Regions from separate parts of the Homo sapiens genome. Here region 1 is linked to region 2. A link means that fine-mapping ties the variant in region 2 to the expression of a gene that starts in the linked region. Tissue or cell type: whole blood. Region 2 holds a variant in brackets; the other region holds the start of a gene. All regions are shown on one strand. Distances are from middle to middle.

The links. PIP is the estimated chance that this variant, and not a neighbour inherited with it, causes the effect.
Region 1: it holds the start of YBX3, and the variant in region 2 is the best candidate, but not a certain one, in a credible set for the expression of YBX3 in whole blood (INTERVAL, PIP 0.56).

Annotation. Positions count from the first base shown.
Region 1 is chr12:10,721,620-10,725,864 of GRCh38, forward strand. It overlaps YBX3 (Y-box binding protein 3), which reads right to left and starts at 1,704. Exons shown (of 10, transcript NM_003651.5): 1 at 1,231-1,704. The coding sequence starts at 1,492. LOC124902876 reads left to right here and starts at 1,433. Exons shown (of 2, transcript XM_047429946.1): 1 at 1,433-2,041; 2 at 3,418-3,699. The coding sequence starts at 1,491. The coding sequence ends at 3,487. RefSeq lists silencers at 950-1,349, 1,480-1,579, 1,600-1,819.
Region 2 is chr12:10,689,237-10,693,481 of GRCh38, forward strand. No RefSeq gene overlaps it. Among named protein-coding and RNA genes, the nearest start is that of STYK1, 17 kb to the left of the region's middle. The variant T/C (reference allele first, on the strand shown) is at 2,237.

The DNA of each region.
Region 1 (4,245 bases), 32 kb after region 2:
TTAGTAAAAGCCCTAGAAAAAAAAAACAAGAAAATAGTCCTCTCAAGGTGGGGAATATTGAATACACTTCTCTCACATTGCTCCCTCAACTTTCTTCCCAAAGGGGAAGTAGGGCTCAGAGAGATGAGACAAACATGCCCCACCCCAAATAGTGAAGAGGTCTCCGAAGCATCCTACACCATCTGTTAACGTTCCTGTTTATAAGAGCGAACGATATGGACACACACCCTTTAGGGAGGTTATTCACCACCCACCTGCTTTGCAAGCGTTTAAGAACTCACACAGGGGCGTTACTTACGAAAAGAACGCTTGTTATGTGACTAAACCAACAACCATCACAGAAACCCTTTCCATCCACTGCCCCCCCAAATCTCAACATTTCATCTTCCTGTTTCCCTTCCTACGTTACAAGTGCCAAGGTAACAATGTTTTGAACTAACGTCATACCCCCACTTCCGACAAAGTTTTTTCAGCTGCTACACCACGTGCGTTCCCACAGTCCGGGAAGAGGGAAGCGTGTAGCCATTGGTGGACACTGAATGGCTGTTTGCAGCCGTGGGCACAGAGAGGGGGAGGAAGACGTGGGACTAAGACCCAAGTTTCCCGGAGACGATTGCAACATCTCTTTGCTGGCATGTGGCCAACAGGAGCATGGCGTCTTTCCCATGCCCATGTGGGAAGGGCGTCAGGGACAGACACCTGACCCTTCCTGGCAAGAAGCTTTTCTATCTTTCCCTCCCCGTCTCCTTCTAGCGCCCTCCTCTTCCCCAAAGGAAATGCTCTCCTTTCCCAGATCCCAAGCAAGGACCCCAAAGCGCCAGGCCCACGTGTCGGTCCTTCCCCTACATCCATCCCTACCCAAGGTCCCCTCTCCCAGACTGCCTCTCCTTTCTTCTCCAAACGCAGGCATTTTCCACCACGCGAATCCGCAACAGTGCCCGTCTGGGAGACAGAAGTTAAGACCTAAACTTTCTGGCCCGGAACCAGAAGGGAGATGCACACGGCCGCCAGGAGCGCAGGGCGCAGCGCGCTCACCTGGGAGCGCCGGCAAGGGAGGCGGCCAGCGCTGGGGACCCGGAGACCCCTGGGGACCCGGAGATCCCTGGGGACCCTGTGCTGTCAGCGTCTCCAGCCCGGGTGGGAGATGTAGCGCGAGCTGCCCACACGTGCTCCGCGGCCGGCTGGGCCCGCCCCACTACGGCAGCCCCTGCCCTCCCTGGCCTGACTCACCGAGAACTTTTTTCTCCGCGTCTTCGCTGCCGGCGGCGGTGGCTAAAGAGGCGGCGGCCGCGGTGCCCGTGGCTGCGGGGGCCGCGTCCCCACCGGGGTTTCCTGCGACGTGGGCGGCGGGCGCCGGGGCCGCGGCCTGGGGCGCACCGCTGCCCACCGGGCTCTTGGGCGCGGGGTCCTGGGGAGCCGCGGCGGCCGCCTCCGTCGGAGCCTGCGGGAGGGTGGTGGTGGTGGTGGTGGTGGCCTCGCCCGCCTCACTCATGCCTCCTCCTCCTCTGCTCTCGCTCAGGCGCCTCGGTGGCGGTTGGTCGGCGGTTAGCGCGGCTGGTGGTCGCGGCGGCCGGGGCTCGCTCTCGGGGAGGCCGGGGCGGATCTCGCGGCGCAGGCGGCGGCGGCCGAGGTGGGGTCGCGCGGCGGAGGCGGCTCGAGCTTCGTGCTGCGCGCTCTCTCTTGGGCTCCTCGCTCGATCTTACTGCCCCAAAAATGGCCCCGCACAAGTTTTTCTAGGCGGCGCACCGGCCCGGGAGGGAAGGGCGGGCGAGGGGAGAGGGTGGGGAAACTTGGCTCGGGAGTCGGGCCCTGGACTCTCATTAGCATTTAAAGGCGCCCGGTGCGCTTTCTATGGCTCCAATCCGCCGGGACGCGAGCGCGCGGGTCGCGTTGCAGAACCAAGGAAAGCCAGGGTGAACGGGGCGCCCGGGTTGTCTTCTGGAGCGTTCCGAGGAGCCCGCGCTGCTGACCCTTTGTTGGAGCGGGGTGCATTGGCTCTCCTCCCTCAACCCGTCTTGACACCCGCAGCTGACAAGGAGAGGTAAAATAGGGCACCCAAACTACTCTGCGCTTTACCCTCTCAAACACTTGTTTTTAAATCCTTTGCATCTAGTCAGTCATTCAACATGTATCAAGCACCAGCAGCTATTCGTAGCACAGCTGTTAAGACCTGGAATAATAAAACCTTAAGACTATTTGGCAACTTACTCCTGAAAGGTAATATACGGATAATTTCATCTGTAACACGCAGATGAGGAAATTGACCTCACAGATTTAATGTAAATTCAGAGTTTACACCAATTTAACCGCAACAAATAAGGAGCTGTCAATATATATTTAATAAGGAACACACACAAAAAAAGCTGAATAAATCCACTTCCTACCTTCTGCTCCAGTTGCCTCTGCCAGCTGGTGAAAGCTTAAGGAACTGAGCCCTCTTAGCCTCGAGGATGAGAGGTATAGAGAAACAGATCACCCAATAAACATTATTCCCAAGTTGAAGAGCCCACATGCCCTTTGAGAATGGGCTGGATGGTAGTAAACACAGGGCCAGAGGGTCTGGGATCTGTACCCAAAGACTGTCTGGAATACAGGACTATTTGGCCCCTAGGGTTCAGACAGACTAGGTATAAATTCTGGCTTTGTTTTTTATTAACCAGGTTAACTTGGGACAGAGATTCAATGTCCCAGAGTCGGTTTCCTGCTTTATGAGAGGTTCTCAAAGGTGACATGAAAAGTAGATGAGATTATCATGTGTCACTCCAGTGTCCGGTCCACCTAAAGCTCCTTTGTTTTGTTTGTTTTTTAAGTTATTGCCTGTTCCCTCAAACAATTTACCAAATTTTTTTCCAGGAATATGTCTGTAATGTCGATGTCTACCTTAACATCAGTAGGGTAACTATCAAGTGTAATTCATCTTTGTATCTCCACTGGTTAGTACAGTACGTAGCACAGAGTTTGGACATAGTGAATGTTTACAAAATGAAAACAGACCAAATTCTTCCAAACTCAATTACTTATCTGCACATTTGCTATCAATTATTATGAAACTTTCCTGAATTCTTACTTTCTTATTTCATCCACAAAAAACACAAAGAAAATAAGTTATTTGAAAAAATAGCAAATTATGTAATTTTGAGCTTTTCTATGTAATTCATCAATATTTAAAAAATTACAAACTCTTAAATGTTAGATTCATATTTTAGTTTGACTTCAGTATGGAGCATACAGTGATGTTATATAAATGTAGATGCTTTTAAAATGCTGGTCTAATTCTAAGAATGATTAAATTATTTCTTCATGTGAAAGATTATGGTCTTAATTACAATTAAATTATAAACATGATTTATTCTGGTGAGGACTGACCATTGACTTTCTTATTCAGCAAAATGATTATCATTGCTATTTACCTTTCAGAATTACATTACAAGAAAAAAAAGTAAGGAGATTGAACTCTTCAAACCGATCCAACAGTAAAGCCTTTTAAAAAAATTCATCCTTGGAAGTAATTCATAACTAACAGGTGTGATCTCCAACCTCTGGAAGACCCTAAAATAATTACAGATGCACCCTGGGATTTCCTAGAATTTGTGCTGGACTGGCTTCCAAAACTACTCATCATTGTCATCCAAACAAAGCAGTGAGCAGCTGGAAGTTGTTGGTATTGTACTAAATAAATCTAAAGAAAATTAGAACAAATATGATCTATGTTTTAATAATCATAAGTAGGAAGCAACTTGGATACAGATACACATAAATTTATCCATTCCTTCATTCACTAATTCATACACTCATATTTGCTAAGCAAATGCTATGTCCCGGACAAAGTACACCATTGTGAGTATCCAATGTTGACCAAAATGGAGCCGGTTGTAAGGTCTTTTGATATGATGTTAAAATTATTTTTCACTATCAACATTTCTATTGTAAGACAATATCATCATTTACTAAGTTTAAGAGTAAGTCAACAAAGAATTATAATCTAATTGCTGACAGCAGTCATTTTTAAGCAATTATTGGTTTGATCATAAAAACAAATGCCACTCTGTTCCTAGTATGGAGGAAGTTAAAGCTCTCACAACTGTTGGAAGGGCTGAAGGAGGGAAACTCAGAGAAGCTCCACTGAAGATCTCAGCCTCCAGTCCCCAAGACAGTGGTTCTCAGGAGTTCTCCTGAAGCCACTGGAGCCACAAGATCTTTCGGAAGTTCTCAGCAATTCAGGGCTGGATTCAGGTTTTGTGATGC
Region 2 (4,245 bases):
ACAGGTCTACACAAATCAGACTATTCTGATTACTGCTTTGACTCTGATGCCCTCTAATGTAACTACGCCCAACTTGCCTTGGCCTCTGCTACCCCAAGATCCAATTACTCCTACTGCATTTAGGTTTCCCAATTCAGTGACTGCAGTTCCCACTACGAGGTCTGGCCTATGGAGAGTAGAGCCATCAGAGAACTCTTCAAAGATGCCAGAACTTACTTCACAGATTTATTTCTTCCAGTATTGCTGAAAGATATGTCTTCTGGGCTTCTCAGTGTGAGAATGTCTTAAATGACTAATTCACTCTAACATTCTAATATCCCTATGCCTTTGGATCTCTTCCTCTACATTAAACCAAGGCATTTTTGGTATTTCCAATTCACTTATGGTGAACCACCTTTTGATTAATGTTTTAGTCAAACAATCAAATTAATTGTTAGAGCTCATTCTAACTCCTTGAGTTGAGCTGCAACATTAAATGCAGAAACTCTGCTTAGTGAGCCCATGTCAATAAATTCAGCTTGATCCAATTTTATGTTCCTTCCATTATCACCCTATACTCTTAGTATCCATTCCCACACATGTCCCCTGGATTTCTGTGTGTATGAATTAGAAAACTCAAGTAGCTCATTTGGAGTGTAGTGCACCTCCTCATGGGTCATACTTTCTACCTCACCCTTAGGGGCCTGCTGGGACTTGAGTCTAGTTGTAGGTCTAGAAGAAAATAAGGGTGTTGAGGGTGGGTCCTGAGAATCAGTATTGTTTCACTGGGCCACTGTCTCAGGGAAGGCAATTACTATTTTCTCAGGCAATTCAGGGTTAATACCACTGGGGGTGAGGATGCCACTGTATTGAGCATGGGGAGGCTGCTGCTTCTGGAGTTGAGGGGACCACTTCTGTGGGGGCTAGGAAGACCTCTTCTACTTGTAAAGAATGCTATAAGAATGAGGGACTCAATGTCCCCAGCTTCATCAGGGTCTTGCCACACAGCCACATCCCAATGTATAGGATCCCATGCTTTTTCATTTAATGCCCTCACTTCAATACAACATACCATGCAAAGCTGGGAATTCAACTTGCAGTGTACTCGGCCAGTCACAGGATGAGGTTCTGCCTTCGATTTTCAGCAATTTCAGCCGTACAGCTACAGGAGGTAAGAGTCTCCTTCAGGTCAAACATAGAAGCTCTTGAGACAGTTATGTAGTGCTTAAGCTGAGATTTCATATCCCTGAGCTCATCCTTTTCTTTCACTACTCTGTCTAGAAACATAGGAACAACCAACTAACATCATTATTTTCCTTAGTTTTCCAAAAATGATTGAAAGTATCATATACATAGTCACTTAGCTCCTTGCTTCCTTGTAAGTGGTGGACTAGGAGTACCCAGTGGAGAAATTTTGCATATCTCCATAAACAGTTCATGTCATACACTATCAATGCTTTATTTACTACTGGAAGTAGTCATTAGCATCTTTAAATCTAATCAGATTAGAGAGTCAATTCTGGGAACTCCAGAAGGAATTCTGAAAACTCATCCTTAAAATTCTATTCCTCTAGAAGCACTCTCACTACCAAAATCTCTATTAGTCGGGGTTCTCCAGAGAATCAGAACCAGTAGCATATATATATATATATATATATATATATATGAGATATATACACACATATATATATCTCACATATATGATATACGATGTATATATGTGTATATATATGATGTGTGTGTATATGATGTATATATATGATGTATGTAAAAGGTTTATTATAAGGAATTGGCTCATTATAGAGGCTGAGAACTGCTTGCTGTCTGTAAGCTGGAGTTCCAGAGATGCCAGTGGTTTAATTCAGTCTGAGTCCAAAGGCCTGAGAGTCAGAGGAGCCAATGGTGTAAATACCAGTCTCAGGCAAGAGAAGATGAGACGACATGTTCCAGTTCAAGTGGTGAGGCAGGGAAAAAGGGGCAAATTCCTCCTTCATCTGCCTTTTGCTCTATTCATGGCTTCAATGGATTAGGTGATGCCCACACACACTGTGAAGGACAATCAATTTACTGAATCTACAGGTTCAAATGCTAATCTCTTCTGGAAACACTCTCACAGGCACACCTCAAAATAGTGTTTAATCTGGGTACCCTGTGGCCAGTCAAGTTGACACACAAAATTAACCATCAAAACCTTCCCAACTACAACGAACTTCATAAAGGAAGGCCTCAATACCTACCAAATGCTGCTTGTTGGGGA[T/C]GATGGAAATGATTAACAATTGCACATGCCATCAGCAGTCATTTAACCTTAAAATTTAACCTTAAAAAGAAAAAGGAGAAGCACTAAGCAGAAAAAGTAGGAGGAAAGGGTCTGAAAGTTCTGAGTCTGTCAAGAAAATGACTTCAGGAATAAGAATAATAAGGAAAGTCATTATCAGCACACTTTACTTTCACAACATCATCAGGGTTATCTCAAACTGTACTTGTCAAAAACGATCTAATACCACAGTTTAAATACACTTTTCTAAATAGAAACTAAATGACCAGAACGAGCAACGTATTTGATCTTTGTTTAGCTTCTCTCTTACCTATTCTGGTTGGCTATACTTATGATACAATGTCATTGGCACACACTTGGATTACTCTACATGGGCCGAGACCTCCACTATCCTTTGTCCTACAATTATGTAGAGGTATAGATTACATGTCTCAGGCAGTGAAACATAATCCCTAGATGAGACCAGGACAGAGCCATCCACAAAAAGACAATGGCATATTCTACTTGAGGGAGAGCTGGGATAATCTGAAATGTCTTCCCCTTTACCTTTAGTTGAAAACTACATTTTTCCTTTCAAATATGTTGAAACCACGTTCTGGAGTGAGCAGCCTGAGGTTATAGATGATGAGGGCTTTAGACCTGAACCTAGATATTATAACTCCCGAGCTTGTTCTCCATCCAGCCTACTTTCTGTGAATTTCAGTCTTATAATACATTTGTGTAACCAGCATCCACAATATTCACATTTCCTAAATGGCAACAAAAGTGACTAGCAAGGATTGTTGTGGAGGCCTAAAACAATGTTGAGAACATTGGTATTTAATGTGTTGTTCATTTATGCAAGAGACTTTAAAGGTAACTTCATACCATGCTTCTCAACATTTTTCACAAAATTTTTATAATCTTTCACTTTGCCCCACCCAATTTCTCTGACTTCTGGAGTAGTCAAGACAGGTTTTGGTTAGATCTACTTGAGTCCGCAAGGCAAGTTTCAAAATGGGGGAGGTGCTTTAATTGGCTGGTTCAAACCAGTTCTTTTGGCAACCTCAGTCAGCATATGGCCCCAGGTTCCCTTGTCTCTCCCAAAACTCAGCAGTTATCATGTTCACAGAGCAGAAATTACATGATTAGATGGTCTTTCTATTGGTGCAAGGATAAAGAATAATATCACCAAAACCACTAAACAATAGCAGAATTATTTTTTAGAGCCCATGGAACATTCACTAAGACAGACCATATCCTGGACCGTAAACCAAATAAAACTCAACAAATTAAAATAATCAAAATGATACAGTGTGTGTTCCCTGATTATGATGAAATAAAATTAGAAATTAATACCAGAATAACAGAAAAACCAACAAGCATTTGAAATTAAACACCGTACTTCTTAATGGGTCAATGAAGACGTTTCAAGATAAATTTTAAAATACATTAAACTGTATGAAAATATGAATACAACATTTGAAATCTGTGGGCACAATTAATGCCATGCTGAGAAGGAAATTTATAGCATAAGTGTTTATATTAGAATAGGAAAAAAGTCAAAAATAAATAATCTGAGCTCCAATCTTAAGAATCAGAAAAAGGACAAAATAAACCTAAAACAAGCAGGAAAAAAGAAATAATAAAGAGCAGATGTCAATAAAGTGCAAAACAGAAAACCAGAGAAAAATCAATAAAACAAAAAGCTGGTTCTTTGAAAATTTTGATGAAATTGAAAACCTCTTGTGAGACTGACAAAGAAAAAAATGATGCAAATTACAAATATCAGTAGTGAAACAGAGATTTTACTACCATCCCCAAAGACTTAAAAATAAAATCTAAAAAATCATTATAACTCTTCATACACAAATGTGGTAATAATTTAGAGACAATGAATTCCTTAAAAAGCATAAACTACCAAAACTCACCCAATATAAAATAGATAATTTGAATAGACCTATAATTGTTAAATTTGTAGTTTAAAAATTCTCAAAAAAAATACTCTATGC